Regions from separate parts of the Homo sapiens genome. Here region 1 is linked to region 2. Evidence: fine-mapped QTL for protein levels in blood plasma. A gene starts in region 2. The other region holds a variant in brackets. All regions are shown on one strand. Distances are between the middles of the regions. Region 1 overlaps ANO1 (anoctamin 1). Region 2 holds the start of FADD (Fas associated via death domain).

The links. PIP is the posterior inclusion probability: the model's chance that the variant is causal. The UK Biobank Pharma Proteomics Project read protein levels with antibody pairs (Olink). The fine-mapping took linkage between variants from a reference panel, not from the people measured, so its PIPs are less certain.
Region 1: its variant is fine-mapped to the plasma level of the FADD protein (UK Biobank, PIP above 0.99).

The regions. Positions count from the first base shown.
Region 1 is chr11:70,103,824-70,119,643 of GRCh38, forward strand. ANO1 (anoctamin 1) reads left to right here. Exons shown (of 26, transcript NM_018043.7): 4 at 176-327; 5 at 1,911-1,965; 6 at 4,530-4,581; 7 at 7,884-7,939; 8 at 12,635-12,676. Among named protein-coding and RNA genes, the nearest start is that of ANO1, 33 kb to the left of the region's middle. RefSeq lists enhancers at 12,433-12,933, 12,934-13,434. The variant A/G (reference allele first, on the strand shown) is at 7,988.
Region 2 is chr11:70,197,313-70,213,132 of GRCh38, forward strand. It overlaps FADD (Fas associated via death domain), which reads left to right and starts at 5,984. Exons shown (of 2, transcript NM_003824.4): 1 at 5,984-6,433; 2 at 8,821-10,078. The coding sequence starts at 6,148. The coding sequence ends at 9,161. It overlaps LOC124902705 (a long non-coding RNA gene), which reads right to left and starts at 15,160. Exons shown (of 3, transcript XR_007062761.1): 1 at 14,977-15,160; 2 at 11,838-11,945; 3 at 11,198-11,265. RefSeq lists silencers at 6,394-6,473, 6,523-6,714 and an enhancer at 15,487-15,820.

The DNA of each region.
Region 1 (15,820 bases), 93 kb before region 2:
GGGCTTTCATGGCGTGGGCGGGGTGGGGCGGTGCATTCTGGCCCACCCAGGTGCTCTGCTCTCAGGACGCCCCGTTGCATGGGGTGGGATGGTTCTCTGACCATCCGAGAACAGATTCCACGGATCATGGTCCAGCAGGGTGACGCAGCTCCCCGGTCCCTTGTCTTATCTGCAGATGTACCACATTAATGAGACCCGTGGCCTCCTGAAAAAAATCAACTCTGTGCTCCAGAAAATCACAGATCCCATCCAGCCCAAAGTGGCTGAGCACAGGCCCCAGACCATGAAGAGACTCTCCTATCCCTTCTCCCGGGAGAAGCAGCATCTGTAAGTGGGGACCCCCAGCCTGCTCCCCAAAGGGTCCTGTGTGTGGGGATTTAACCTTCTAGCATGAGAAATGCAGATTGATTATCTGTCCCCCAAAGAAGAGCGTGTTCTTGTAAGAGCTTTGTGGTTGCTGAGCCCAGAAGAGGCTGTGGAAATGATTTCTAAGATCACCGTTAACTGATGAGTTAGGGGGACACAGCATCTTGTTCTGCTTGGTGACGCAGGAAAAACTTCTTTGGCCTGAGTGAGGACCCCAAAGCAGTGGTCTAGACATGCCTTCCCACCCGCTCCGCACCCCTGCCCCGCCACCCCATCCCCCTCCAGTGTCTGGCCAACCAGGCCTCCTGCAGCCCAGGCAGCCTTGAGCCCCAGTAAGTCTCACTCCTTGTGGCAGAAATTGAAAAGCATCCCCAGGCAGGAGGCCTGAGGCCCCAGGGACTCACCGCCAGCTGGCTTGCCTGGCAGGGCCACGTCTATTCTGGAAACTTCCCTCCTCCCGAGGGGCAGTGGGGCGTAGCCACCTGGGTCAGCAGTGACTGCAAGGCCTCTGCTGGCCTCACTGGGCGGAGCTGGAGTGTGAGCAGAGGTGGGAATAGAAAGCTTGAGTCATGGGAACCCAGAGGGACTTTGGATGGAAGCTCTGGCGGGCAGGAGGGCTCCTGGACAGTGCTGGCCTCACAGGGTCGGGGGCATGGAAAAGCAGACAGGGAGGACGAACAGGTGCCTCAGCTCACAGGGGCCCTTGCTTATAAATGTAGTAGGGGTGGAGCCATGAGCATCACTGGATGCATTTACCAGGTCCTGATTCCTAGAGCGGACAGGACATGCCACCAGAGAGAAGGAAGCAACCCCCAAGCCCAGCCCTCTCCTCCAGATCCAGAACAGGGGCTTGGGGCATTAGAGGAAACCGCCCTCCTTCCAGGACCCCCGCCGACCTCCCTCGTCTCTGCCCTGGGTCGACTCTGTCAGCCCTGCTGCCTGGACAGGGCTAAGCTCACCTCCAGGCTCCGTGGAGGTGGAAACTGGCCCAGCCGCCCTCCCCAGCTCTCCCCGAAGTGCCTTGGAGAGCAGGGAGAGCAGGGAGTGTGTTCCCAAGATGCCCCTCCACCCTCAGGAAGCCTCGGGCCATCCCTATGCAGCCCATCAGGACCCAAACCATTGGAAATACAGGGAGATTGTTTTCAAGGTTGGAGCTGTCTGATGGTGGCGGTGATACTGCCCCTGTCCCCCGCCTTGTTGAAACAGAGACTTTCAAAACTGCCCACTGAGGATGTCATCAAAAGGAAGCAGGGATCTTCTGGGGGGCTGTGGGGGGTGGGGGGCTGGAGGGTGGTCTGACCGTACTCGCCTCCTAGGTCACTTCCCACCTATGTGGGTCTCAGGCCTCGCCCAGGTGCGGGGGCAGTGAAACAGTCTGTTCCAAATGCCCAGGGGCGGACGGGTCATACCTGGCGTGCGGACAGAGTTCTGTCCATTTCACGGTCACGGCTAATGGGGACAGTGTGGTTTCCCAGGGCCTTGAAACCCAGAGAACTGCCAGCTCTGGTGAACTGTGTCTTGTTTCCTTCCCGATATTTCCACAGATTTGACTTGTCTGATAAGGATTCCTTTTTCGACAGCAAAACCCGGAGCACGATTGTAAGTATCGCACGCGCCTGGAAACGGCTCACTGGCAAGATGGCCCTGGGGATCCAGATGATAATTTCATTTTGGTGAAACTCCTCCCGGTGGAAGCCGGCTCTAATTGTCTGTGACAGAAATAATTAGAATAATGAAAGGGAGAGGGCAACGAGGGGCCCAGGGGATGGTCGTGCCCCAGGCAGGGGCAGCTGAGAGGAAGGGAATCAGCACAGAGCTTGGGAAAGCAGGAGGGAAGCCAGACCCCTGGAGTGATTTCAAAGGTCGGTGTTTCTGGATCTGTGCAGCTCCCAGCACATGTCTCAGAGCCGCCTCGTGGTGGGATTGTGCGTGCCTGACCATCAGGCCACGATTCGGGGCTTTCAGGGCAGGCAGGTGTGGGCAGGAGGGAGGGTTGGTGGAGGCAAAGGCGCGTGGGTTGAGATCTCTTTCCAGGCCTTTGCCAGAGGAGCCAACTGAGGTTTGAAATCTGACCAGGCCACCCTGCCCTATTCAAGGCACTGGCTTCATGTTTATCCAACCTGTCCACCAGCCAAGCTGGGGCTGTGCATGGCTCAGGACCCAACTTCTATCTAAACAAGAAATTAACCTGGCAGCCAAACTTTCGCTGTTATTCTCTATTCCCTGCCCAGAAAGCCCAGCCTGGCCGGGCAGAGACAGAGGGCTGGGAGGAGACAGTCAGGGTGACCTTGTCCAGACAACTACTCCTCATGACCACCACCTGAGACTGGCAGGCAGCCAGCAGGAGGTCGGTGCAGGTCGTACCAGCACGGGGGGTTCTGAGCCACTGCTGGGACAGACAGATCTGGGGCAGGGAGGAGGGCATCTCTCTCCCAGAGACCCTGGAGGCCAGTTTCTAAATGGCCAACATGCTCCAAAGAAACTGATAATTCATAGCTTTGGCCTTGGTTAGTCAGGCCTAATAGTCATCAAAATCCAACAGCCTGCAGGGTTGGCTGAGGTTCTAGGCAAAGCCGTGGAGAACTGACAGCCCTTCCCCACTCCTCTCCTCCACACCATTCAATCTGTCCTGGCATTGGGGTGGTCCAGTGTGCAAGTGGATAGGAGTCAGAGAACAGCAGTACTCGATAGGGAGAGGCCCACTGTGCTGGTCTTGGATTTTAGACCTTTGGCCTGTGGGCGCTGGGGAGCCATAGAAGGTTGTGGAGCTAGGTTGAGGATGTGGTGAGATCCGTTCCAGAAGGATCACTGCCAGTGGCCAGCTGTGGGAGGGTAAATGACTGGTGGATGAGGGCTGGTGGCAGTGGTCATAAACATGGGCCATAACTGCATGTGGAAGGGAGGAGGTGGTTACAGGAGAATCAGCAAGGTCAGAACCGATTAGATCTGAGGGATGATGGGGAGGGAGCCATTGAGAACAGCCTAGTGGGCGATTCCTTCCTTCATTCAGCAGGGATGTATTGGGCACCTGCTGGGTGGGAGAAAAGAGGCACTGAGGACATTTATAATCCGGCAGGTGGGGAGAGGCAAGCTGAGCTAGAAGACAGAGCCACCGGGAGGGTGGTGGCCTCAAGGCCTGGTTGTTAAGGGGACCCTGGACCTATTCCAATCTGAAGGGGACAAGTGCTTCTGGGAAAAGGAACAGCCAGGGCGGAGGCCCTGTGGCTGCAGGAGTGAGTTTGGAAAGTGAGAGAGGCAGCCAGGGGGCGGGGTTGTTGGGACAGGTGGGTCCAGTGGAGGCGGCGGGGCGGGGAAGCGGTCAGATGGCCTGGGCCAGGGGGAACTGGAAGGACGCTGGCCTTGCCTGAGAGAGTGGAGGCAGAATTGGCATGCTCTGAAATGCACGTCTGCATAGCACGACCAGTTCTTCTCACCCCAGTTTACAGATGGAAAAACTGAGGCCGGGAGTGGTGATGTCGCTGGTCCAAAATCACACAGCTGCAAATGGCAGAGCTGGCGCCAGGTTCCAGGCAGACAGACTCCCAAGCCGGAGCTGCTGAGGCCACCAAACAAAACACGTCACTAGTCAAGGGGCAGGCAGCCGGGGGGGAATCCCTTCAGCAGGGCTCTGCCCAGGCACCAGGAACCCAGAGCCCGATGATGGCCGCCTCCTGCCACCGTGGGGAATGGATCCCAAGGCCCGCCCCACCACCACCACCCCTGATCCCCCAGAGTCCTAGAACATTCAGGGCTGTGTCCCAGAGTGGTGCTGTTCCAACTCAGCTCTCAGCACGAGGGGACCGTAAATCCACCAGGCAGGGTACGTGGCACAGCTGTGACACAGGACACCAGCACTAGGCCCAGGAGGGCACGGCAGTGCTTTGCTGGGGCCAACTGCCATGACTCCCACGTTGGGAGGTGAAAGATGGGAACTGCAGGTGCACCTGTTTCTCCCTGAGAAGCTCAAGCCTTTGACAGTGTTGAGAATCCGGAGCTGGGTCAACCCTCCCTGAATAAATGCCATTGTCTTTCCTTGGAAGATAGCACCAAGGAGGTCTTCATGCGTAACGTGTGACCAGGTCCTCTCCAGCCACAGCAGACTGTTTCTGCTCGTGGAAGGTGCCTTAAGTAACTGCTCACCCCCCTTCTTGTCTCTGCAATAGGTCTATGAGATCTTGAAGAGAACGACGTGTACAAAGGCCAAGTACAGCATGGGTAAGCACGTTTTTGGGGCTTGAGATCAGCATTGGTTTCCAAGTCGGAATCTCACCTCCGAGTCATCTCTGTGGGAGGCAGGCAGCCGGCTTGGGGTGTTTAAGAGGGTTTTGATTTAAGCCTGTGTAACAGTTCCAGACAAGAGGGCTGGGTTGGGAGCGTGCAGGGCAGTTTTATGGCCCAGCACTTTTAAACACAAATGTATCCTTCACTTTGGCCTGAGGGGTTTGTGAGCGTGTGGACAGGCTCTCCCTGCACGGGTGGTAAATCCAGGCTGGAAACAGACCAGTGTTAGGGATGACCGGGGGATTCCTGGCCCTCTCTTGACCCTCACGGTCCAGTGGGAAGTAATTGGGGTTCCAGCCGGGGCGGCATCTCCATGTGGCTGTTCCGGACCCTTAAAAGCACAGCTGGGCTTGCTGAAAGCAGCGCCCCCTGACCAGGCACCACCAGGTACAGACAGCCTAATTCCGGAAGCTGCCACAAAACCATCCTGACCAGGCTTTCTGGGTACCAGTTTCCAGAACCCCTTAAGCCGTAGATACAAAATCTTCCCAATTAAATTGTGTAGCTGGGAACCACCCCCCACAGTGGGTCCCTTGCCCACAGCTGCAGGCAGTTTGTGAAAGCCAGAACATTGCAGAGCAAAGGAATGCCATTTCCAGCCTTTCCTCCCCTCCTTCTTGAGCTGTCTTATGACCTGCTGAGAGCCGTGCCATAGGGTAGCATCCATCACTCTGTAGAAGCCTCTGAAAGGATGAGGCCATGGCTCCCGGGGGACACAGCAGGTCTGGTGAAAGCTGGAGTCTGTGCATACAGGAGGGACCATCTTGCTGCCTTGGCTTCCCGTGGTGGCAGGAATGCTGTGGGAAGTAAAATGAAGAGCAGTGGGAGTCAAGGGCTCGGAACTGGAATTCCTGAGGTCAGGCCCGGGAGACAGAGAGAAGACGAACCCTCGACAGCTCTGGTGGCTGCTTGGCCCCAGACCATATGGCCTGTGTTCACTCACAGGGATACCCTTGCAGGCCTGAAGTCTCTAAGTCCATGTCCTAAGGCAAGGGGAGTGTGGAGGAGTCCCATCCAGGGTCAAAAGGACTGAGATCCTCTAGAATGGCCAAGCCCTAGTACACACGACTGCAGTGAGGTCAGGCGGAAAGGAAGGTGACGTTGGGAGTTTGGGTTTTTGAAATTGCTCCTCTAGGTCACCGCTGCCAGGGCACAGCCTTGGAAAGGTAACTAGAGGTAAGGAGGAGGCATGGTTCTGGTCCCAGGGCCGGGTCTTGGACCTCGGTTTCCCCCCTGGGTCCCTGCAGCGTTCCTTCCAGTAGAAACGTGTATGGTTGCAATAGAAGTCCAGCGTCTTCAGGCTGCATGGCCCAGGCTGATTCTCTGCTCGGGTGGTCCCTGGGGACACAGGGTCTCTGTGTTCCCACCGGTTTTGTGGCGGGGCTGGTTCCCTGCACCTGGTGACGGGGCAGATAGATGCGGGTCCTCCTCTTCAGCCCTGCTTCACCATGACACCTTGTCTGAGAGTCGACCCACCTCTAAATTCATCCGCAAGTGCTGAGGATTCCCGTCACCTGCCAAGTTGTGTCCCATAGTCTTGCAGGATGAGCAGGGTGGGGCTAGCTGCGGGATTTAGGAACTGTGATGAGAGAAGGCCTTCCAGATGGAGGGAGTGGCACATGCAAAGGCCCTGCGGCAGGCAGCACCAGGTTAGCAGCATTCCAGCAACAGGAAGGAGGCCAGCGAGCCTGGCTGAGGGCCTATGTTCACTTTCTTTTTTTTTTTTTTTTTTTTTAGACAGAGTGTTGCTCTGTCACCCAGGCTATAGTGCAATGGCACAATCTCAACTCACTGCAACCTCTGCCTCCTGGGTTTAAGCAATTCTCCTGCCTCAGCCTCCCGAGTAGCTGGGACTACAGGCGCCCGCCACCACGCCTGGCTAATTGTTTGTATTTTTAGTAGAGACGGGGTTTCACTGTGTTAGCCAGGATAGTCTCGATCTCTTGACCTCGTGATCCACCTGCCTCAACCCCCCAAAGTGCTGGGATTACAGGCGTGAGCCACTGTGCCGGGCCCCCATGTTCACTTTCTATTGCAGACAAACTTTTCACTCACACATGTGGCTTAAGCCCCTTCCTCTGGTTTTGACTTCTAAGCATCCCTTAGTCCCCTGATCATTCCAGGTCATTGACCACAGAGATGGCCCATTTTCAAGGGGATTTCGGGAGGTCATTTTCCCGCCGCTATCAGGTGGAGTCTCAGAGGGTGGTCCGCCCAGGCTGCTGTGAAAAACTTAACGCTCTTACTGCCTAGGAAGCCTCTTCAGCCAAGCAGGGGGTTCCATGAGCAGCAAAGGGCCCCATGGAAACGCCCCCGCCTGGCTGGGCCCCCACGATGTATTTGGAGCAAGATCTGATTTCCAGGAAACCCTTCCCCACACATGGCCCTGGCTTTCCGGTCCTCTCTCGCAGTCTCCTGGGGCTGGGCGCCCGCATGCGCACCTGTTAGGACACACAGGCATGGTGTTTTTATAATGTGCCCAGTGCAGGCCCTGGGGGCCACGTAAAAAGGGGCCCTGCCAGCATTCCACTGCCTCCAGGAGCACTGGACGGCTGTGAGTCCGCCAGAATCACTGGCCACTGACGCTTGCTGCCCCAAATGTAGCTTTGATCCTGTCAGGCCCTTCCACCTCACTAATAGCCAATGTATAAACAGGGCAAGGCGAGGGAAGAAAGAAGGACTCCGCCCTTCTAAGTAAAAGGCGGAAATGTGGGAAGTATGGTAAGTGTGGGCCTCCTCCGGCTTTCCCAATCAACCTAAAATCTAATTCCAAATTGTATGTGTGTTTTCTGACACCATCAATTTTTCCATCCGTATATTTCCTCATGATTCAGCTTCTCTAACCACTTACAATCCACCTTCCCCATCTGCAGGCTTGCCCTCGGACAGGTGGGGGGAGCCGGTGAATCGGAGGCTTGGGGTGACAGTGAAGCCATGGTCCGCTCACACCGCCTGCCTCTGAGACAGAGCCGCCTCTTGGGGTTTTCTCTGTGTCTTCCTAATTCTGCCAATCGAGCATGTGTTTCGTCATCTCCTAGTTGATAGATCAATAACCCAGCTGCACCCTGTCATTCCTGGGGAAGAAACCCCAGAGGTGGCCGGGCTCTGCGTAGTCAGGTTCGTTTCATTTTGAGAAGCTCTTAGTGGCTGAGATGGCCCTGTGACCGCTGTGACTTTACAATGGGAAGCGGGAGACCCGCCTGCCCCATAACCTTCTCTCTGCCTCTGTTTTTAAGGCATCACGAGCCTGCTGGCCAATGGTGTGTACGCGGCTGCATACCCACTGCACGATGTAAGTAACCTTGACACACGATTTATCTCTGCGTCATTTGACTCCCCA[A/G]ATCCCGCCGGGCCACACCCCCCCGGGAGCTGCAATTATCCTGTGGTCACAGCTTCCTGCTTGGCTCTCGCTGTAAATGTCAACTGTACACAGGCCTTCCCTGTTCCCCGGGTGGGGGCCAAGAAGTTACACACAGGGCCATCTTTTCTTGCAAAACAATCCCACCAAAACGGGGGCACGGGTGGCAGCTGCTCCTGCCTCGACTTCCTCTGAACCTCGTAGCCAGCGGGTCCACAGAATGTCTTTCCTGGCCTGGGCTCCCCTACCCCCAGCTGGCCCGGGGCTCTGGCAGAATGACCAGGGCTCTGTACGTGTCTATTTCTGCAGAGCAAGTGGCCAGCTTCCTGAGCTGAATCTCCAGATCCCACTGGTATCCCTTTGACAAATATAGCCCATGTCAGTGGCTGACTTGGGGTGGAGAGAGAGAGAAGATTGTCTTCTTGTTGTCTCTATGGAAACAGGGACTCAAGTTCAGCAGGGCACTGGGAATGGGCCTCCGGGCCTGAGCAGTGTGGGAATCCCAGACAGAGGAGCTCTGAAACTTTGCAAATGTGCAAAGGCCAGGAGCCAAGAAGCAGGAGAGAAGGGACAGGCCTGGGACTAAGGAGACCCAGATTCCAGTCCCGGCCACTTACCTGCTCCTCCGCCTTGAGTGGTGGAGTCAGCCCCTTGTCTCACTGAGCCTCAGTGTCCCCATCTGTGGGTCAGGAATCATAACTTGTCCTAACTCCTCTTTTCTTTTCTTTTTTTTTTTTTTTTTGAAACAAGACAGAGTCTCGCTCTGTCATCCAGGCTGGAGTGCAATGGCATGATCTCGGCTCACGGCAACCTCCACCTCTTGGGTTCAAGCAATTCTCCAGCCTCAGCCTCCCAAGTAGCTGGGACTTCAGGCGTGCACCGCTACACCCAGCTAATTGTTTGTATTGTTAGTAGAGATGGGGTTTCACCATGTTGGCCAGGCTGGTCTCGAACTCCTGACCTCAAGTGATCCACCCACCTCAGCCTCCCAAAGTGCTGGGATTACAGGCGTGAGCCACCGTGCCCAGCCTAATTCCTCTCTTCTTGAGGAAGAAACAATGGATTAGACAAACTTGAGGTGCAGGGATCCCGCAGGGCAGTTCAGGGGTGTATTCTCCAGACGGTTGACCCCAAGGGAAGGAGTCTAGGCAGATCTGCTGCCCGTCACCTCGTCGCCTCCCTGTCAGGGCCTCCTCCTCACTGTAGGTCCGGGGATTGGGGTGGTTGAGCAGCCCCGCTTCCTCCCTTCGTGCATTCACACATGCTGTTCCTTCTGCTACGGTACTCTTCCCCGCCCCACCCCACCCCAGGCGGACAGAAGCACCCACACCACGCCTGCCTGTTGCCTTCCTCCCCAGGACTAGTGGCTTCTTCCTCCCTTCTCTGGGCCTCAGATGGTCCCTGTCCTGCAAAGACACCACCGTCTGACCACCTTTAGTTATGTGTGTCATCTCAAGGAAGCCCAAGCACTCAGCACTTAATAAGTGCTCAATAAACGTGGTGTTGATTGAGATTGGATTGAGTCGGTTTGCCTCGGCCAGCGACCTGCTGTATGGGGAGGTTTCAAGGGCAGAGTTCAGGCCCCTAGACCAGGGCAGTGGCTCCGGGTTCCTGCCCTGAAGCCCTGAGTCTGGAGGAGCCCACTCCTCCATTCTGTCAGGCTTTCCTCCAGAGGACCCAGCCGGTCTGGTTGTTCTGTCCCACCCTGTGTAGGCTCCGGCTGGGTGCCAGGAAGACAGCCCTGCCTGGCACAGCCCATGATCCCAAGAAGGCAGCCTAGAGCTACATCCATGCTCCTGATTGACCTTTAAGCAGGTAATCCCTGCTGAGAGGCTGAGGCACCGAAGCCAAAATGTTTCCGGCCCTCCCTGCTTGTTTTGAGTTAGCCCTTTAAGTCTTAAAAGGGAAAGGGGAGAAATGAACGTATCTGAGCACCTACTGTGTGCAGAGCCCTCTGTTTAGAAGGAACTGTACCTCATATAACCTGTGCAGACACAGAGACTCAGAAAGGCTTAGTAATTTGCCTGAGGTCACACAGCCCCTTTGGAGGAGCTGGGGCCAAAAGCCGTCCCTAGTGACACTCTGCAACTCCAGTGCCTCGCTGTGTCCCCACCTCATCCCGTCATGGAGGCCAAATGCATCCCTCTTCTTGGCAGCCACTACTGCATTTGTCTTAGGGATTGACTGTCAACAGTTTAAATTGACTGGCGCAAAACTCCCTCATCAGCTGGATCTATTTATTGTCAGAGAGCCAGCCTCACAAGAAGCATCTCCAAGATCCATGCAGACAATCTCCTCTTTCAAAATCTTCATCGTGCCTTATGCAGCCATGTGGGGTCTGTTCCCACCTTAAAGATGGAGAAACAGGCTGGAGGAGCTCAGACCACTTGCCCAGGGGCGCACAGCCCAGAAGGAGTGGAGCTCGGAAGCCCTAGGCTGTGGGTGGCAGGTATCCTTAGGGAATATGGAAGTTTACAGCCACAGATTTTCCATATGACTGAAGGGCGCCCGTGCTGCTAAGTACCAAAGCTGATGTTTAAGCATTTGGGGAGATGACTGGTTCTGGCCTGAGCCGCGTGCACCCATGTCCTTACCCAGAATACTGACTGCAGGGAAGTTCAGGCTGGCCTCGGTGGCCATGGTGAGGCTCTCACTGCATGCAGTGTAGTTCTGGCTTTACATTTTTGCTTCCATCTTCCTCCCCATGAAGCTGTCCTGCATCTTACCCCCTTCCAATCCTGTGCTTACTGCATTCATTCATTCATTCATTCCTCAAGAATATCTGGTCGGTTGGGCACGGTGGCTCACGCCTGCAATCACAGCACTTTGGGAGGCCAAGACGGGTAGATCACCTGAGGTCAGGAGGTTGAAACCAGCCTGACCAACATGGCGAAACCTCATCTCTACTAAAAATACAAAAATTAGCTGGGCATGGTGGCACATGCCTGTAATCCCAGCTACTAGGGAGGCTGAGGCAGGAGAATTGCTTGAACTCGGGAGGCGGATAACAACCTGATAGAGTTGTGTGTGGGTAAGAGTCACATGCTCCAACTGAGACCCTGAGGAAGTCTCCTGGAATCAGAGTGTATCACCCGTACTGAAAGGACTTTGATATTTATGTTGGCTACTTGGCGGCCTTTTGGCTTTCTTCCTGACTAACGAGGTCACCAGCATAAGGACCTCCGTATAAATGAGGTGCTGCTGGGATCGCGTGGCTGTCTCATCCATGGAAAGAAACTGGGAAACACTAAAAGGAGTCAGGCTTGGGTGGGTGAGGATCCCCTGAAGACTTAGGAGGAAATTGGTTAAACTGCTCTCAGAGCGTCTTCGTTCCAAGACCACCTGCATTTGGTTGCTTGCTTGAGTGTGTGGTCAAGTCGTCCCCACCTGGCAGGGGTTAGAAGGGGTCATGGAAGTTGCTGGTGAGGGGAGAGGGCACTGGACAGACCCCCAGGAGCCCCATAGCTTTGTCTGCCTGGATATTCTTAAAACCCATTGGCCAGGCCAGGCGCAGTGGCTCACACCTGTAATCGCAGCACTTTGGGAGGCCGAGGCGAGCGGATCACTTGAGGTCAGGAGTTTGAGACCAGCCTGACCAACGTGGTGAAACCCTGTCTCTACTAAAAATACAAAAATTAGCCGGGTGTGGTGGTGGGCACCCGTAGTCCCGGCTACTTGGGAGGCTGAGGCAGGAGAATCACTTGAACCTGGAAGCGAAGGTTGCAGTGAGCCGAGATCATGCCACTGTACTCCAGCCTGAGCGATAAGAGTGAAACTCCATCTCAAAAACAAAAACAAAATCAAAACAAACAAACAAAAAAAACTATTAGCCAGGCCAGGCCAGCCATGCCCTGAACCTCGACAGGGCCGCTCCCTTGCTGCTCCTCCCCAGTTACTTTTGTCAACTGTAGTTATTTGGGGCTCACTGAATGACAGTTAAGTATCATTTTGAGTGTTTGTGAGGGTAACGTGCACATAGCCATAGGCAGTCTAGACCCATGATGTTCCAAGATGGGCTTTCAACCCTTAGACCCTTCTCTTCCTTTAGGTTTGAAGGTCTGGATCCAAGTCAGGGTCTGACCGAACTTAGGTGTGTGTCCTCAGAAATGTCAGTTTGCTTCTCGGAGCCTCAGTGATTCCATCTGTAGAATGGGAGTTTTGGACTCACTGATTAGATGACAATGACCTTGTCATTTACTGTCCCTCTTGGGATGCTCCACAGTGAGAAGGGAGCAAGACACGGACTGTCCCAGCAGAGTGGGACATATACGCACCCTATTGATACGACTCTTCCTGCCTCCAAAAGCCCCCTTTCATTTGTGTTTCTGGTTCCAAGGACCCGACCGTGGATCCTCTCCTAGAGTCCCCTCTGTGTCGAGGGAAGAGGCGGCTCAGGCCGTCCTGGTGGTGGAGGCCAACAGGGCGGCCAACAGGGACGTGCACGGCCTTTCTATCATAACGGGGGCACACCTGGGCAACCCTCACACTCTGTGTGAAATGTTGCCCCAGGATGATCTTAATTTGTGTCAACGAGAGCTGCTGGGGTTTATGTTTTGAAACATAATGGATGTGAGCGCCTCCAAAGCTCCATTGGATGATAAGAACGTCCCTTTCCTCTTTTTTTAACAGGGAGACTACAACGGTGAAAACGTCGAGTTCAACGACAGAAAAGTAAGTTGATGGAGCGGAGCAGGAGGTGGCTCTGTCAGAGCCTGGAGGCGTTCTGGGGCGGGGTGGGCCTGCAGCTGGACCGAGGACTTACCGGCCTCCAGGGCCTCCCCAGGGCGCTCGCTGCAGGGGGCTGAGAAGCGGGTGTCCCCTCTCACCTTTTCAGGAGAAAAGTCCGTGAGCTTTGTGTGGCTGGTTTGTTTTCCTCTTTCTGATTGTCAAAAATGCCCTTGGCAGGTGACCGTGAGCATGGGAAAGGGAAAGCTGTCCTCCCAGAGCCCACTCCTTGCACGCTGTCCTTCCCTTATCTTCTCGGGACAATCTGAACTGTGCCTGGGCCTCCAGCAGTCCTTGCTGGCATGTGGCCTAATCCCACAGGGCTCCCAGGCAAATAAACTTGGGAACCACTGACACCAGGTGCACAGAGAACAATGGCCCCCAGCAGCGCATTGGGGAAACCTGTTTGATGGTGGTCAATGAAGTGTTTCTCAAATTTACCTGACCTGGAACCCTTTTAATGGAGAAGTTGTTGAGCTAGTGTTCTAGGGAACACACTTTGGGAAACACTGGGTGACCCCTTTATTCTTTTTTCTTTGTTTCTTTCTTTTTTTTTTTTTTTTTTTTTTGAGTTGGAGTCGCACTTTGTCACCCAGGCCCTCTGCCTCCCGGGTTCAAGTGATTCTCCTGACTCAGCCTCCAGAGTAGCTTGGATTACAGGTGCCTGCCAGCAGGCCCAGATGATTTTTGTATTTTTAGTAGAGACGGGCTTTCGCCATGTTGGCCAGGCTGGTCTTGAACTCCTGACCTCAAATGATCCACCCTCCTTAGCCTCCCAAAGTGCTGGGATTACAAGCGTGAGTCACCGCACCCAGCCAGCCCCTTTATTCTTTAGTGGCTGTTGCTAATTTTCCTCACTCCCCAAAGCGTTGGTCCCCACCCTCTACCCCTCACTCTGAGCATGGGAACTCCACCCTTCCCACCCAGGCTCCCCAGGAAGCTCTGCTTCTCTACCATGCCCCCGAAAAGAACATGTCCCCACCACATCCATTTGCTCTTCCCTCCTCTCCCATGGGCCCACACCCGATACCAGCCTTCCCCCCAGGTCTCCACGTCAGCCTCTGTTCCCCAAATGTGCCCAGCTTTCCCTCTCGGGAAGCAGTCCTTCCTGGACCCTGCATGTGCAGCCCTTGCCCTATCTGCTGGTCCTTCCACAGGTGGTGGGTAGAGATGCTTCCCTGACAACCTCACAATAGTGGCCTTGTCCCAATTCCCAGGGGCCAGGACCTCTGTGTATGGAATGTTCTTCATTTCAGCCTCCCCCACAGGCCCCCATACATGTTTTTAAATCTTTGGTACTTGATACAACTTGCCCGCCTGGGAATCCAGATGAAGATGCTATCTAACTTAGCACAAAAATTACATATTTGGTTATTTTTAGTGTAACATCTGGCATCGTCTGGGACCCCATGACTTGCAGAACTCCCGACTCCAATCCTGTTGGAAAAGGACCATCCCCTCCACAGGCCTGTCCTGACCAATTCCAGCCTCAGAGTCCAGCCCCCTTCATCCCTCCGCACCCCTCTGGCACTTGGCAGATGCCTATCCTCCCCCTAAAAATGCTTCTTCCATGGACACCAGTAGTCCCTTTCTAGCCGAATTCAGTTCTCTGGGTCACAGGCCCCTGAACCCTACCCCCTCTTCCCCCTCCTCCCCCTCCTCCATTCTCCAGCCACACTGGCTGCTTTTCTAGTCTCAGGATTGCTTGGCTGATGGTCACGTCAGTGCCAGGACTAGCTCATTCAGTTACTTATTCATTTGAGAAATACCTACTGGGCACTACTCTGTGCCAGGCCCAGCAAACACAATGCGGGTTTGTCCAGGCCCAGCTGTTTACTCTACCTGGAATGATTCCCACTCCCCATGTAATTTTAGGTCCCAGCAGTGGATACAAGGCCTGGCCCATGGGGGTAGTCAAGGAGTAATGAATGACAGTTGGGTGGATGGATGGATTAATGGATGATAGATGGATGGATAGAGATGGAGATGGATAACTGAATGATGGATAATGGATGGATGGATAGATGGATGGATGGATGGATGGATGGATGGATGGATGGATAGATTATGGATGGGTGAATGGGTGGACGGATGAATAGATGATTGATGGGTGGGTGGGTGGGTGGATGGATGGTGGAGAGATGAATGATGGTTGATGGATGAGTGGGTGGATGGATGGGTGAATGAGTGGATGGACAGATGGATGGTTGATGGATGGGTAGGTGTGTGGGTGGATGGATGAATGGATGCTGAAGGGATGAATGGTGGATGATGGGTGGGTGTGTGGATGGGTGGCTGATGGAAGGATGAATGATGGATGATGGGTGGGTGAGCAGGTAGGTGGATGGATGCATGCTGGAGGGATGAATAATCAATGATGGATGGATGGGTGATGGGTGGGTAGGTGGGTGAATGGGTAGATGGATGGATGGATGCTGGAGGAATTAATGATAGATGATGGGTGGGTGGATGGATGATGGAAGGATGAATGATGGATGATGGGTGGGTGAGCGGGTAGGTGAATTGATGGATGCTGGAGGGATGAATAATCAATGATGGATGGATGATGGGTGAGTGGGTGGGTGGATGGATGGATGCTGGAGGAATTAATGATGGATGATGGGTGGGTGGATGGGTGATGGAAGGATGAATGATGGATGATGGGTGGGTGGAGGAATGATGGATGGATGGGTTGATGGATGATGGGGGGGTGGGTGGGTGAGTGGATGGATGCTGGAGGAATTAATGATGGGTGATGGGTGGGTGGATGGATGATGGAAGGATGAATGATGGATGATGGGTGGGTGGATGAATGATGGATGGATGGGTTGATGGATGATGGGTGGGTGGGTAGGTGAATGGATGGATGCCTGAGGGATGAATAATTAATGATGGATGGATGGATGGCCGATGGAAGAATGAATGATGGATGCTGGAGGAATGAATGATGGATGATGGGTGGGTGGATGGATGGATGGATAAATGGATGGATGGGTGCTGGAGGAATGAATGATGGTTGATGGGTAGATGGGTGGCTGATGGAAAGATGAATGATGGATGCTGGAGGAATGAATGATGGATGACGGGTGG
Region 2 (15,820 bases):
TCAGGTGATCCGCCCACCTCGGCCTCCCAAATTGCTGAGATTACAGGTGTGAGCCACTGTGCCCGGCCTCTTCATGGCATCTTAAAGTCTCTTTTGCCATGCTGACGAACATAGCTGCAGGTCTGCGCATCAGGGTGAGGGCCGGCAGGGATGTGGACATTTGGGGTATTCTGCCTACCACAGAGCCCTGCCCCTCAGGAAGCAGTCTCTTTTTTTGGAAAAAACACTACCCCCAAGGAGAGCCAAGGATGCCCACATATTTAGAATAGCCTTGGACATTAATGACATTATTCTAAATATGCCCACATATTTAGAATAGCCTTGGACATTAATGACAAAGACCAAAATGGGCCAGGTGCAGTGGCTCACGCCTGTAATCCCAACACTTTGGGAGGCTGAGGCGGGTGGATCACGAGGTCAGGAGATCAAGACCATTCTGGCTAACAAGGTGAAACCCCATCTCTACTAAAAAATACAAAAAAAACAAAAAATAGCCGGGCGTGATGGCAGGCTCCTGTAGTCCCTGCTACTCGGGAGGCTGAGGCAGGAGAATGGTGTGAACCGGGGAGGCGGAGCCTGCAGTGAGCTGAGTTCGCACCTCTGCACTCCAGCCTGGGTGACAGAGCGAGACTCCGTCTCAAAAAAAAATAAAATAAAATAAAAAAAGGCCAGGCGTGGTGGCTCACGCCTGTAATCCCAGCATTTGGGAGGCCAAGGCGGGCGGATCACCTGAGGTCAGGAGTTAGAGACCAGCCCAGCCAACATGGTGAAACCCCATCTATACTAAAAATACAAAAATTAGCTGGGCATGGTGGCACACACCTGTAGTCCCAGCTACTCAGGAGGCTGAGGCAGGAGAATTGCTTGAACCCGGGAGACAGAGGTTGCAGTGAACCGAGATCACGCCACTGCACTTCAGCCTGGGCAACAGAGCGAGACTCCATCTCAAAAAAAATAAAAAAGAAAAAAAATATATATATATATATAAAATAATAAATAAAATAAAATTCATATAGCAAGACAGAGGCCCTCGAATAGCTAAAAGAATCTTGACAAAGCAAAATACAATGGGAGAAATTGCTGTAGCCAGTATTAAGGTTTACTATATAGCTACACTAATCAAGAAAAGGTCATATGGTGCTTTTTCAGCCTCCCTCACTGGCTTCCCCACATCTCCCAGCCCCTTAAAGGTGGACACCCCTAGGCTCATCTGTTGGTCATCTTTATTCTTTTTCTTTTTTCTGAGACGTGGTCTCACTCTGTCACCCAGGCTGGAGTGCAGCGGCATGATCACAGCTCACTGCAGCCTCAACCTACTGGGCTCAAGCGATCCTCCCACCTCAGCCTCCCCAGTAGTTGAGACTACAGGCGTGTGGCACCACGCCCAGCTAATTTTTTAAATTTTTTGTAGAGATGAAGTCTTACTGCATTGCCCAGGCTGGTCTCAAACTCCTGAGCTCAAGTGATCCTCCCATCTTGGCATCCCAAAGTGCTGAGATTACAGGGGTGAGCCATTGAGCCCAGTTGGTCATCCAGTCACCTTTTCTATCCCTCTTCATAGGTGACTGCACTCTTTTGGTTTTTTCAACACAATCTATCTGCAGGCAACTCTCAAATTCACCTCTTCTCCCTGTCATCTCATGCCCCTCACTGACCAGTCAACATCTCCACCAAAACATCTAATAGGTATCTGTATTAGCTTTCTGTTGCTTATAGCAGAATACATGAAACTGAATAATTTACAAAGAAAAGAAATTTCTTTCTTTTTTTTTTTTTTTTTTTTTTGAGACAGGTTCTCACTCTGTCACCCAGCCTGGAGTGCAGTGGCTCGATCTCAGCTCACTGCAACCTCTGCCTCCCAGACTCAAATGATCATCCCACCTCAGCCTCCAGAGTATCTGTGACTACAGGTGCATACGCGGCTAATTTTTTTCTGTATTTTTTTGTAGAGATGGGGTTTCACCATGTCGCCTGAGCTGGACTTGAACTCCTTAGCTCAAGCTATCCACCCTCCTTGGCCTCCCAAAGTGCTGGGATTACAGGTGTGAGTCCCTGCACCTGGCCCAGAAATTTCTTTCTTATAGTTATGGAGTCAGAGAAGTCCAAGGTCAAGGGTCCACTTTCGGGGAGGGTCTTCCTGCTGGCGGGGGCTCTCTGTGGAGTCTGCAGAGTTTTGAGGCGATGCAGGGTATCACGTGATGAGGGAGCTTAGTGTGATCCTCCCCCATAATAACTCATCAGTCCATTAACCCATTAATGGAGGAGACAAACATTCAAACCATAGCAGCATCTCACACACACATCCCAAGCCAATCTCGGTCCTCCCTCAAGCCCACCCCACCCGCACCTTCCCGGTTTCCATCAATGGATGGACCAGCCTTCAAAGTTTACAGGGTATCCTGCATTCTCTAGTTTATGCGCATCCCCAATCTAAAGAAGGCTGCCCTCTCTCACCACCTCCACTGCTACCTGCCCTCTGGTCTGAGTGCACTGCCTTTCATTCGGATTATTGTAGTCCCCTGGCTTCTAACCAGCAACCAGCGTGATCTTTAAAAATGTAACTCGAGGTATGAGAATCGCTTGAACCTGGGAGGCGGAGGTTGCAGTGAACTGAGATCTCGCCACTGCGCTCCAGCCTGGGTGACAGAATGAGACTCCATCTCAGAAAAAAAAAAAAAAAAAGAAAAAAAGAAAAAAAGCTGGGCACGCTGGCTCATACCTGTAATCCCAGAACTTTGGGAGATCAAGGCAGGCAGATCACCTGAGGTCAGGAGTTCCAGACCAGCCTGGCCAATATGGTGAAACCGTGTCTCTGCTAAACATACACAATGCAGGAGATTGGTCAAGGTGGTAGGAGAAATTATAAAGATAAAGTTATAGGAAATAGACACAAACTTTCTTGGAAGGCCGGAAGGTTTGCATAGCTTCAGTAAAAGATTTGGCTGAAGGTAGCTGAATTCTCTTAAAAGTTTAGGGCGTAGATACATAGGAATGTAGAGGAGTTTATCTAAATAGCTTGTTCACTCATGTTGTCCTAAAACAGACCTTTGATCATTCACGGGCAGGACTACTCTCTCTGAGGGAGGGCAACCAGATTAATTACCCACAAATGTGTTGACTCAAAGCCTTTGTCATTAAGTCTGTGCTGAATAAATGCCTGCAGGACCAGCTAGTCAGGCCGCGGGGCTGGAACAACTCTTTTTGTGAAAGGTCCAGCCCCCTAGCCAGCTCTTTCACTGAATACTGGTGTCTGAGTACATTATTCATCTGTAGTGCAGCCCAGGTCTGTGGGTCAGACCCTGGCAAGTTAGCCGGATGTGGTGACACATGCCTGTGATCCCAGCTACTCGGGAGGCTGAGGCACGAGAATCTCCTGAACCCAGGAGGCAGAGGTTGCAGTGAGCCAAGATCGTGCCACTGCACTCCAGTCTGGGGCAACACAGTGAGACCCCATCTCAAAAAAAAAATGTAACTCAAGACCAGACACGGTGGTCACACCTGAAATTCCAGCACTTTGAGAGGCTGAGGCTAGTGGATCACTTGAGCCCAGGAGCTCAAGACCAGCCTGGGGAATATGGCAAAATCCTGTTTCTACAAAAAAAAAAAAAAAAAATGAAAATTAGCCAGGGGTGGTGGTATGTACCTGTAATCCCAACTACTCAGGAGGCTGAAATGGGAGGATCGCTTGAGCCCAGGAGGCTGCAGTGAGCTATGACTGTGCCACTGCACTCTAGCCTGGGTGACAAAGCAAGACCCTGTCTCAATAAATAAATAAACAAAATAAAACTGTAACTCAGTGTTCATAGCAGCATTATTCACAACAGCCAAAAAGTGGAAGCAAAGGCAATGTCCATCCTCCGATGAATGGATAGACACACTGTGGCACCCAAACACCCAGACAGTGGAATAGTATGCATCCATAAAAAGGAAGGAGGCTGGGCACAGTGGCTCACGCCTGTAATCCCAACACTTTGGGAGGGTGAGGCAAGAGGATCACTTGAGGCCAGGAGTTTGAGACCAGGCTGGCCAACATGGCAAAGCCCTGTCTCTACTAAAAATACAAAAATTAGCCTGGCATAGTGGCACACACCTACAATCCCAGCTAGTCAGGAGGCTAAGGCACAAGAAACGAGAGTCGCTTGAGCCCGGGAGGCAGAGGCTGCAATGAGCCGAGATTGTGCCACTGCACTCCAGCCTGGACAAAAGAGTGACACTCTGTCTCAAAGAAAAAAAAGGAATGAAGTACTCATATGTTCTACATCATGGATGAACCTTGAAAATGATGCTGAAAACAGCCAGACACAAAATGCCACATACTGTATGGTTCTGTACACATGGAATGTCCAGAATTGGCAAATCCATAGATTTTAAAAAGTAGATTCGGCAGGGCACAGTGGCTCACGCCTGTAATCCCAGCACTTTGGGAGGCTGAGGCTCACTTGAGGTCAGGAGTTCAAGACCAGCCTGGCCAACATGGTGAAACCCTGTCTCTACTAAAATACAAAAATTAGCTAGGCATGGTGGCAGGCACCTGTAATCCCAGCTACTCAGGAGACTGAAGCAGGAGAATTGTTTGAACCCGGGAGGTAAAGGTTGCAGTGAGCCCAGATCGCACCACTGCACTCCAGCCTGGCCATAGAGCGAGACTCTGTCTCAAAACAGCAAAAAAAAAAAAAAAAAGAAAGAAAGAAAAAAAAAGTAGATTCGTGGTTGGTGGGGGAGGGGAGGAGTACATGCTAATGGGTTTCTTCTTGGGGTGATGAAAATGTCCTAAAGTTAGACAGCAGTAAGGGTTGCACAACCTTGTGACTACACTAAAAACCACTGAAGTATAACTTTAAAAGGGTGAATTGAATGGTATGTGAATTATATCTCAAGAAAACAAACTCAGCTGGCATCAGCCCCTGCCCCACCCTGTGGTAAAGCTGGGTCCTTGTTGGCTGGTGAGGGCTCTCCTAATCTGCACCCCCTCCTCACCTCCAGACCCACGGCATTGCTGCTCCTGGAACCCCAGCCGTCCCCTGTGCTCTGCTCTTCTGTTCTCCGTGTGCCCAGCTCTTCCCCCCACACCTAGGTACCCGGCCCCTCCCAGCCTTCACCTGCGCCTTTACAGAGGCCCCATCAGACCACCGGGCCCCCCACCCTCCACACGCCCACCCCGTGAAGAGACTCCCTTTCCCCTGGCTCTTCTGAATTTCTGGCATACTATACGATTTCCTTATTTTTCCTTATTTTTATTTTTTAATAGAGACGGGGTCTCACTATGTTACCCAGGCTGGTCTCGAACCCCTTGTCTCAATCAATCCTGCCTCAGCCTCCCAAAGTGCGGGCATTGCAGGCTGAGCCACCACGGCCGCCACGACCTTCTCTTCTGGAGCGTGTCGCTTTTGTAATTATGATGTAAACTCCGGGCACGCGGGGACCCTCGCGCTTCGCTCACTAATTTGTCCCCAGACCCTACTACCTGGCACAGTAGGCGCTCAATACTGTTGATTGAATAAACGACTGCTACTTTGGAAATCATGTATTATTTAAATCACATGTTTAAACGCACATAAACTTCTGAGTAGTGTTTTCTGCACACACAAGATGTCTCCAGGGGCACCAAAGAATGCATTTTCCACGTTTGTCCCTAAACGTTAATGCATAAGTAACCTTGGTCACCAACAGATGTGAGGGCACGTGACGTTCGGGCTGCGCCCTCCCCGCCCCGGCCCTGCACACAGTAGGGCCGCACCGCGCTTTGCAAACAGGTGGACTCGGCAGAGGCGCGACCGCCCTCACCGCAGAGAGCTGGGCCACCTGCAGGCTCTCAGGACACCCAAGGCCCCACCTCCCACCCGGAAAAGAGACGATACGCCGGGCGCAGGCGCAGAAGCCGCGCCCGTCCGCGGCGCCGCCAGCCAGGGCGGAAACGGCTGCGGCTTCGCTAGGGACGCATGCGCGGGTCCCTTAGTTTTCGCGAGATAACGGTCGAAAACGCGCTCTTGTCGATTTCCTGTAGTGAATCAGGCACCGGAGTGCAGGTTCGGGGGTGGAATCCTTGGGCCGCTGGGCAAGCGGCGAGACCTGGCCAGGGCCAGCGAGCCGAGGACAGAGGGCGCACGGAGGGCCGGGCCGCAGCCCCGGCCGCTTGCAGACCCCGCCATGGACCCGTTCCTGGTGCTGCTGCACTCGGTGTCGTCCAGCCTGTCGAGCAGCGAGCTGACCGAGCTCAAGTTCCTATGCCTCGGGCGCGTGGGCAAGCGCAAGCTGGAGCGCGTGCAGAGCGGCCTAGACCTCTTCTCCATGCTGCTGGAGCAGAACGACCTGGAGCCCGGGCACACCGAGCTCCTGCGCGAGCTGCTCGCCTCCCTGCGGCGCCACGACCTGCTGCGGCGCGTCGACGACTTCGAGGCGGGGGCGGCGGCCGGGGCCGCGCCTGGGGAAGAAGGTGGGCGCGGGGCCGGGCCGGGGGAGCCAGGGCCTGGTCGCCCGGCTGTAGGTGCTGCGAGGCTCCTCCGGTTGGCCTCCAGGCGCCTCCCCTTTGCCGGGTTTGATTTGCGTGGGTTTTCTCCGTACAGCCCTGGTTTTGCAGATGGGAGAGCCAGAAACGCAGAAAAGTTAACTTATTCGAGGTTGCAGGGCGTGGACACGCACAGTCCTTTTTCCTCCACCCACTTCTGCCCGGGTAAATTAGAAAACTCACTGAAGAAAAGATGAGTCAGAGAAGGTGTGGGGGAGGGGCAGAGGTTGGGTGAGCCTGCCTCGCATCATTTCCTTTCTGTCTCGGAATATGCTTTTCACGGCTGTCTGAGAGTAATACTAGCATTCAGTAACTCCTACCCAGGGGCTTACAGTGTGCCGCTTACCCTTGTAACTGCCAAATACAATTTTCGCAGTAGCCCTGTGGCTTAGATACTGTTAGCTATCACTGTTCCCATTTTACAGAGGACAGGACTGTGGCTCACAGGTTAAGTGGCTTTGTCGAAATGCGCAGCCGATAACTGACGGAGCTAGGCTTGAGCCAAGCAGTCCGGCCTCCGGATGGGTAGTGTTAGCCACTACACTGCCTCTCTGGTCAAGTTCATTGTGGAGTGGCTTCCTGTCCTGCTCTCGGTCACTCCCTCTCCACCCTCGCCTGTGGATTGCAGCAGCTTCCAGGATAAAAAAGAAACCCTGAGTACAGCAGAGTTTCTCAGCCCTACCCCCCTTGTTCTCAGAGTCGGGAGAGGCTTGGGAGTGCTCTGGGGACGCCTCTCAGAGGCTTCAAGCTGTAGCTTGGAATCAGCCATTCAGTCACCAATCAGATAGGGCCTAAATGTGTCACCATGGGTTTCACTCTGTAAAGACTGGTGCCTGTTGGGGACAGGATGGACAGAACAGCTCTCTGCCTGAGAGCAGTCAAGTCCAGATTTTAAAAAAAATCAGTACTGAACAAACAAAACAGGACGTAGAAAAATCGGGTTTTATGGATATTTAATGTCTGGAAAAACACTGATAAATTGCATTTTAAAGGCGGTCTACGAAACATAGCTGACATTTGAGATGTATGTGTGCTTGGTTTTATTTATATCGTCATGTAGTTACTGTGTGCTGGGAAAAGTACACCAGAAGGTGAGCGGTGGGTATGGACAGGTTGGTAGCGGGCGACTCTGCCTTCCTCCCCAGAAGTTCAGCATAGCGGTTAAGGGTCGACTCTGGCACCACACTCTTAGGGTTTCAGAACATGGCTCTGCCATCGTCTAGCTACACGATCTCAGGAATGTCCATTAGCTTCCCTGTGCCTCAATTTCCTCATCTGTACAGTCATGGTAACACAGTGCCCAGCCCACAGGGCTGTCAGAGCTGCGGGAGCTGGTACACCTGCCAACGGTGTCTCAGAATTGCCAGTAGTCCAAGCAGCACCCTGTCCTGCCTCTCCTTTCCTCTCTTCACATTCCAGAAGCGGCCTTTTATGGTCTTGTGACCAGCTCCCTGATCTCAGTGGTGACGTCAGCAGATGAGGAGTATGGTAGCCAGGGACTGAAGACTGGTGGTCACTCGGGGCAGCTTTCTAAATAACAATTGGAGTGCCTACTAGTTTCCTGTGATTGCCATAACAAATGATCACAAATCTGGTGGCCTGAAGCAATAGAAATCTACCCCCTCAATCTGGAGGCCAGAAATCTGAATAAGCAGGGTGCCACAGACCGGCACACCCTCGGAATGCTGTTGGGGAGGCTCCTTCCGGGTCTCGTCCGCTTTGTGGTGGCTCCAGGCATTCTTTGACTTGTGGCCGCTTCACTCCAGGCTCACACGGCCTTCCCTGTGTGTCTCCTGCAAGGATACCTATCATTGGTGCATCCAGGTCATCCAGGATGATCTCCTCTCAAGACCCTCAGCTTACCTTTGCAAAGATGCTTTTTCCAAAGAACATTCATGGTTTCAGCAATTTCACGTGAACATACCTTGGGGTGACATCGTTCAGCCTGCTGTAGGGCAGGATGTGGGATCAACCCTATTTTCTTCCCTCCCACAACTCCCCAGCCCCTCCCTCAGTGTCTCCTGCTCTAAGTAGGTAGCTCCACTACAACTTCCTTTGGCACTTGAGTCTTCAGTGGGCCACGCCTCCTAGGACAGTATTAGAGAGCAGGGGGTTTGGCTGAGGTGGAATCAGGCCACTCTTGGGCATTTGGTGCAGCCCCTTTGCTGCCAGGCGACTCTAGCCTCTACAGAGGACCTCGTGTAGGCACCTCTGTCCACTCAGCACTTGGCGTCTGTGCTGAAAAGCCCTAGGGAGGATTGTGGGGTCGCTTGTCTCCAAACCTATGGTAAACCGTTCTGTTCTTTCCTTCCCAGACCTGTGTGCAGCATTTAACGTCATATGTGATAATGTGGGGAAAGATTGGAGAAGGCTGGCTCGTCAGCTCAAAGTCTCAGACACCAAGATCGACAGCATCGAGGACAGATACCCCCGCAACCTGACAGAGCGTGTGCGGGAGTCACTGAGAATCTGGAAGAACACAGAGAAGGAGAACGCAACAGTGGCCCACCTGGTGGGGGCTCTCAGGTCCTGCCAGATGAACCTGGTGGCTGACCTGGTACAAGAGGTTCAGCAGGCCCGTGACCTCCAGAACAGGAGTGGGGCCATGTCCCCGATGTCATGGAACTCAGACGCATCTACCTCCGAAGCGTCCTGATGGGCCGCTGCTTTGCGCTGGTGGACCACAGGCATCTACACAGCCTGGACTTTGGTTCTCTCCAGGAAGGTAGCCCAGCACTGTGAAGACCCAGCAGGAAGCCAGGCTGAGTGAGCCACAGACCACCTGCTTCTGAACTCAAGCTGCGTTTATTAATGCCTCTCCCGCACCAGGCCGGGCTTGGGCCCTGCACAGATATTTCCATTTCTTCCTCACTATGACACTGAGCAAGATCTTGTCTCCACTAAATGAGCTCCTGCGGGAGTAGTTGGAAAGTTGGAACCGTGTCCAGCACAGAAGGAATCTGTGCAGATGAGCAGTCACACTGTTACTCCACAGCGGAGGAGACCAGCTCAGAGGCCCAGGAATCGGAGCGAAGCAGAGAGGTGGAGAACTGGGATTTGAACCCCCGCCATCCTTCACCAGAGCCCATGCTCAACCACTGTGGCGTTCTGCTGCCCCTGCAGTTGGCAGAAAGGATGTTTTGTCCCATTTCCTTGGAGGCCACCGGGACAGACCTGGACACTAGGGTCAGGCGGGGTGCTGTGGTGGGGAGAGGCATGGCTGGGGTGGGGGTGGGGAGACCTGGTTGGCCGTGGTCCAGCTCTTGGCCCCTGTGTGAGTTGAGTCTCCTCTCTGAGACTGCTAAGTAGGGGCAGTGATGGTTGCCAGGACGAATTGAGATAATATCTGTGAGGTGCTGATGAGTGATTGACACACAGCACTCTCTAAATCTTCCTTGTGAGGATTATGGGTCCTGCAATTCTACAGTTTCTTACTGTTTTGTATCAAAATCACTATCTTTCTGATAACAGAATTGCCAAGGCAGCGGGATCTCGTATCTTTAAAAAGCAGTCCTCTTATTCCTAAGGTAATCCTATTAAAACACAGCTTTACAACTTCCATACTACAAAAAATTTTCTATTCCTGTTGGTGGTTCTTTCATTTTGGATATGCTGGATATTCCCAGTACAGCCAGTTTGAGGATCCCTGTCAAGGGCTCCAACCTGGGAGGGGTGGCTGGATTTCCTGACAGCTCGCTAGCTGCTCATGAGCAGTGTCTGCCCTTAGCAAACAGTGGTCTGCTAGGGTAGCTTTTGCCGCTCTTAGAATTTGCCTGCACCACCAACAGTATCAGAATCAAAGCCAAGTGGCTATTCTCTGTCCCAGTTCACCAGCTATGACCTTGGGAAAGTCCAGTGTGCCGTCCCATAGGTGGGATCTTAGCCAAGGCCGCAGGACACTGTCCCCAGTAAGCCGTGGACCCCGGCCTTTAAGCCCCTCCACACCTTCACCTGACGCTTCCAGGTGCCAGACTCCTTGCTAGGAGCAAAGGCCATAGGAGTGAATGGGACAGAAGTGTAGCCCTGCCCTGTTGGCCTCAGAAACCTAGCAGAAACAAGCTTTAACCAGTTCATCACTAGCTTGGGGTGCTGCCGTGGCGCTGAGCTGGTTGCTATCCCAAAACAGCGTGGCCTGACCTACACACTGTACACCCCCGACCCGGCGCATGCCTGCTCTCAAGGCGCAGGTCAGGGTGAGTTCTATAGAGAATAGACACATCGCCCCTCACTGTCCCTAAGTGTGAGCAGCTTGGCTTTGGGGAAGAGATTTTCTTGGGGTGCGTGGGAAAGTATTCTTTTTTTTTTTTTTTTTTGAGATGGAGTCTCACTCTGTTGCCCAGGCTGGAGTACAGTGGCATGATCTCGGCTCACTGCGACTTCCACCTCCCAGGTTGAAAGGATTCTCCTGCCTCAGCCTCCCAAGTAGCTGCGACTACAGATGTGCACTACCAAGCCTGGCTAGTTTTTTGTAGTTTTAGTAGAGACAGGGTTTTACCATCTTGGCCCGGCTGATCTGGAACTCCTGACCTCAGGTGATCCACCTGCCTCGGCCTCCCAAAGTGCTGGGATTACATAGGCGTGAGCCACCGCGCCCGGCCTTGGACATGGATTTCTTAAAGCAACTTGAAAAAACAAATTCTATGTTCATTTTTTTTACAATCAGGTAGAATTTGTGTTTCTGGAAAAGGTACGCACAAATCTTGGGCTTACTTGAAAGCTGGAGGTAACAGCCGTCTCTTGCTCTCTGACTCCTTTTTCCCCTAAGACAGAAGAGGGAAGACAAGTCCAAACGTCTGTGCTTTGCGGGAGACTTCAGGGGAATTTGATCAAGCGTTTCCTGGAACAAAGGGTCAACCCTCTGGTCTTCAGGTTCCCGCAGCCTCCCAGCTGCCTGCCCTTCTGCCTTCTGTTACACAGTGCCCCCTCCACGCCACACTCACACTCGCTCCCAGATTCTCACAGCCACCCCTCTCCAGGACTCACTCCCTGGTGCTCCTGAGACCACACCCCACACAAACTATTCTTGCTGAAGTCACAGGCTGCTGCAGCATTTTTGTTCTACCTGAATCTCTAGGGCCTCTGACACCTTCCGTGACCATTCTCTCCAGGAGCTCTTCTCCCTCTCCGCTGTCCTCCTCTCAGGTCCCTCACACCCTCCCCCAGCCTCAGCCTCACCCCTCCTCTAGGGAGCACAGCCCTTTCTTAGCCTCACCCATCCTAGGTCCCTGGTACCTGCCAGGTATCTCTAGCCCAGATCTTTCTCTTGCCCCAGACCCCAACTGCCTAGGGGCAGCCTCACAGTGGCTGCTATAGCAAACTACCACGTACTTACCGCCTTAAGCGGCACAAGTTTATCTTATGGTTCTGGAGGTCAGAGGTCCAAAATGTCTCTCCCTGGTCTACAAATCAGGTGTCAGCAAGCTGGTTCCTCCCGGAAGACCTAGAAGAGAATCCGTGTCTTGCCTTTTGCATCTTCTAGAGGCTGCCTGCATTCTTTAACTCATGGCCCCTCCCTCCATCTTCAGGCCCACAGATGAGCATCTTCCCATCTCTCTGACTGATTCTCCTGCCTCCCTCTTACAAAAACTCTAGTGACTACACTGGGCCACCTGGATAACCCAGGATCCTCTTCCCATCTCAACATCAATTTAAACACATCTGCAGAATTTCTTTGCCAGGTAGGGGAACATATTCACAGATCCCAGGGATTAGCACATGGGCACTGTCAGAGTCATGCAAGCCACACCCCAAATTCAGCCTCCCTGCAACCTGCGCCCCGTTCCGTGCCTGACACCACCATCTAGTCAGTAGCCCAAGCCACAAACCCTCCTTCCTCTCCCCACTGTCACTCTTCCCTCAATTAAAACTGGGCGCTAGGCCAGGTGCAGTGGCTCTCATCTGTAATCCCTGCACTTTGGGAGGCTGAGGTGGGAGGATTACTTGAACCCAGGAGTTTGAGGCCAGCCTCGCCAACATAGGGAAACCTCATCTCTAAAAAAAATAAAAATAAAAAAAATGTAGCTGGATGTGGTTGTGTACACCTGTGCTCCCAGCTACTCGGGAGACTGAGGCAAGAGGATTGCTTGAGCCCAGGAGGATGAGGCTGCGGTGAGCCATGATCACACCACTGCAATCCAGCCTGGGTAACAGAGCAAGACCCTGTCTCAAAAAAAAATAAAAGTAAGCACCAGGTCCTATACTTTGTAACTCACAAGTGTCTCTCCCATCCACCTCTTCTGCTACCTGCCGCCACCCCCACTCCCAGTGGGGCCTCAGCCCTTTCCACTGGACAACCACAGTGAGTGACCTCGCAATTCATCTTCCGCCTCTGCCCCGCCTTCCACCCATCCAGCCCATCTCCCATCAGCAGCCAGAAATAAACTGAGTCATAACACAGTCCCCTGACTCTTCTTAGAAGCCACGAACTCTGTCCATATTTTTTTGTTTTATATTTTTATTCCCGTGATAATTAATCTGAGTCATCTTGCTGACTGCTTTCTAGCCACACAAATCCTGTGTGAATTGCATTTGGAATCAGACAGGCAAACATGACGTGGGGTAGCATGTGCTCATGCCAGAGTGACCCGTCCCCCAGTGTCTGCTGAGATAAAGGCAAGACTTCTCTTTTACAGGGAAATTTGCAATTGAAAGATACTTCCATCAAAGAAGCTCTTAGTTTCTTGAATCATTTACTAAGTTGAGACCCCGTGGCAAGAATCATGGATGCCAACCCCAGTAATGGTCACCAAGGAACAGAGGCCAATTCAATGCATGAATGGGGTCCTCATGGAAAGCCAAATGACATATGATTTAAGTTTTTGAGGTGTGGCTCAAATAGAAAAAGAATATCGTGGACCATTTGAGTCACCCCCAGGCACATGGCAAGTACAAGGCCTTCCAAACTCCCACGCCTCCTTGATGACAGTCTGTAGACATGAAGCTACAATTTTGTTTCAGCAAAACAGCATCATACATACTGTTTAATGATTAAACAGAATGCACTTCTGTTTGGAATGAATTAAAAATGCTGAGCCCGGCACAGTCGTTCACGCCTGTAATCTCAGCACTTTGGGAGGCTGAGGTGGGAGATCTCTTGAAGCCAAGAGTTCAAAAGCCTGGGCTGCAAAGCAAGACTCCATCTCTAAAATATAATAATAATAATAAATAAATTAGGCCGGTGTGGTGGCTCATGCCTGTAATCTGAGCATTTTGGGAGGCCAAGGCGTGCAGATCACATGAGGTCACTAGTTCAAGAACAGCCTGGCCAACATGGTGAAATCCCATCTCTACTAAAAATACAAAATTAGCTAGGTGTGTTGGTACATGCCTGTAGACCCAGCTAATCAGGAGGTTGGGGCAGAAGAATTGCTTGAACCTGGGATGGGGAGGTTGCAGTGAGCTGAGAACACGCCACTGCACTCCAGCCTGGGCAACAGAACAAAACTCTTTCTCAAAATAAAATTTAAAAAAAATAAAATAAATTAGCTGGCCACAGTGGTATATTCCTGTAGTTCCAGCTACTTGGGAGGCAGGAGGATCACTAGAGCCCAGGAGTTCAGGGCTATAGTGAGCCATCGTTGCGCCACTGCACTCCAGCCTGGGCAGCAGAGCAAGACCCTGTCTCAAAAAACAGAGGAAAGAAAAGAAAGGAAAAAATAGTAATCATACCTGACGTTAAATATGTTATTAATCTGAATTCTACGAGTTTTGTAGGCTTCTCTCTCCCCAATTTGCAATTTTATTGGCGATTTATAGTTTCCAAGGGCTAGACACATGGGCTTCTATTCCACATCTGGCTATATATTTGTGCCTATTGATGTTTCATTATTGAAATGAAAACCTGGTCATCATGGGAGTCTGGGCAATGTTTTACTACTTCCAAATCAGTTTCTGGCTGGAGAACCCCAGCTACAATGTCCCCATGTCCCTCAGGATGAAATCTTTTTTTTTTTTGAGGTGGAGTCTCGCTCAGTCGCCCAGGCTGGAGTGCAGTGGCGTGATCTCAGCTCACTACAAGCTCCGCCTCCCGGGTTCACAGCATTCTCCTGCCTCAGCCTCCCGAGTAGCTGGGACTACAGGCATCCGCCACCACACCCGGCTAATTTTTTGTATTTTTAGTAGAGACGGGTTTTCACCATGTTAGCCAGGATGGTCTCGATCTCCTGACCTCATGATCCACCCACCTCGGCCTCCCAAAGTGCTGGGATTACAGGAGTGAGCCACCGCGCCTGCCCAGGATGAAATCTTAATCCATGCATCATCATGCATGGGACGGGGTACACAACTGTGCAGAGCCCAGCCCAGTGCCATGTTCCCTCCACAGCAAGACTGTCACCTCACCCCCTCCCACCCTCCCCCGCAGCCCTTGCCCCTGCTGTTTCCTCTCCCTGCAGCCTTCCTCACTATCCACCCCAAGCCCCCCAGCTCAGAAGACATCCTTCTGATGCAGGCTTGCCCATGCACCCACTCACAGTGGGATCCCTGCAGCCCCCACTCCTGCCCGGGTCCTGCTTCCTCTAGCGCGACTCCCTGAGGGCTGCTTCCAGCACTTTCCAGCGGCTTCTGAGTGAAGGCTTATTTTGTGTTTGCTGAGTGAATGAGTAAACAGCAGCGATCAAAGGCCCACTAGCGTCTCTCAGGGGCCTGAGTTCCTTGCAAGCAGGAAAGCAAAAGATGCCTCCGCCCCAGGGTTTCAGATTCCTGGATTCCCCTTCAGCTTTCACTTTTGGTTGGGCTTCCCAGCCCAGTCAGTCGGACTGTGAAAGCACCTGCCCCGCAGTAGGCACGGGCAGGGCAAGAGGGCATCTTCTCAGGGGAGCCAGGTATGCCCCTTGGTCTGCCACCCATGCATCATATGCCCCTGTTCCCTGAGCCTCTGCTCCCCGCCCCTGGTCCACATACCCCCGCCCCGGTGCCCTTCACTCTGACCAGGCCCAGTGAGCTCCAGCCAGGAACCCCAGGGAGGAGTCCCCACCACCTGAGTCACTGCAGGCCATCCCAGGGGTCCTACTCGCCAGGAAGGGTTGACGCCCACGTACACATACACCTCTGGGCTCCTGGCACTCTGAGCTGTATGTTTCATTCTGGTTCATTCACCATTCATTCATTTACTCGGTAGATTCTTAGCAAAGGGCTACCAGCTCAGACCGGGAGTGGCCAGCTCTTCTCCCTCACCAATGCTCCCTCTCCCAGCAATGTTGTAAGGTTCAATGAGATGTGGTGTGGCGAGGTCTGGGGGTGACAGCCCAGGATAAACGTCACTAAATGTCATCATTGTTACTATTCTTAAGGAACTGCCTGTTTTAAAACAAGCAG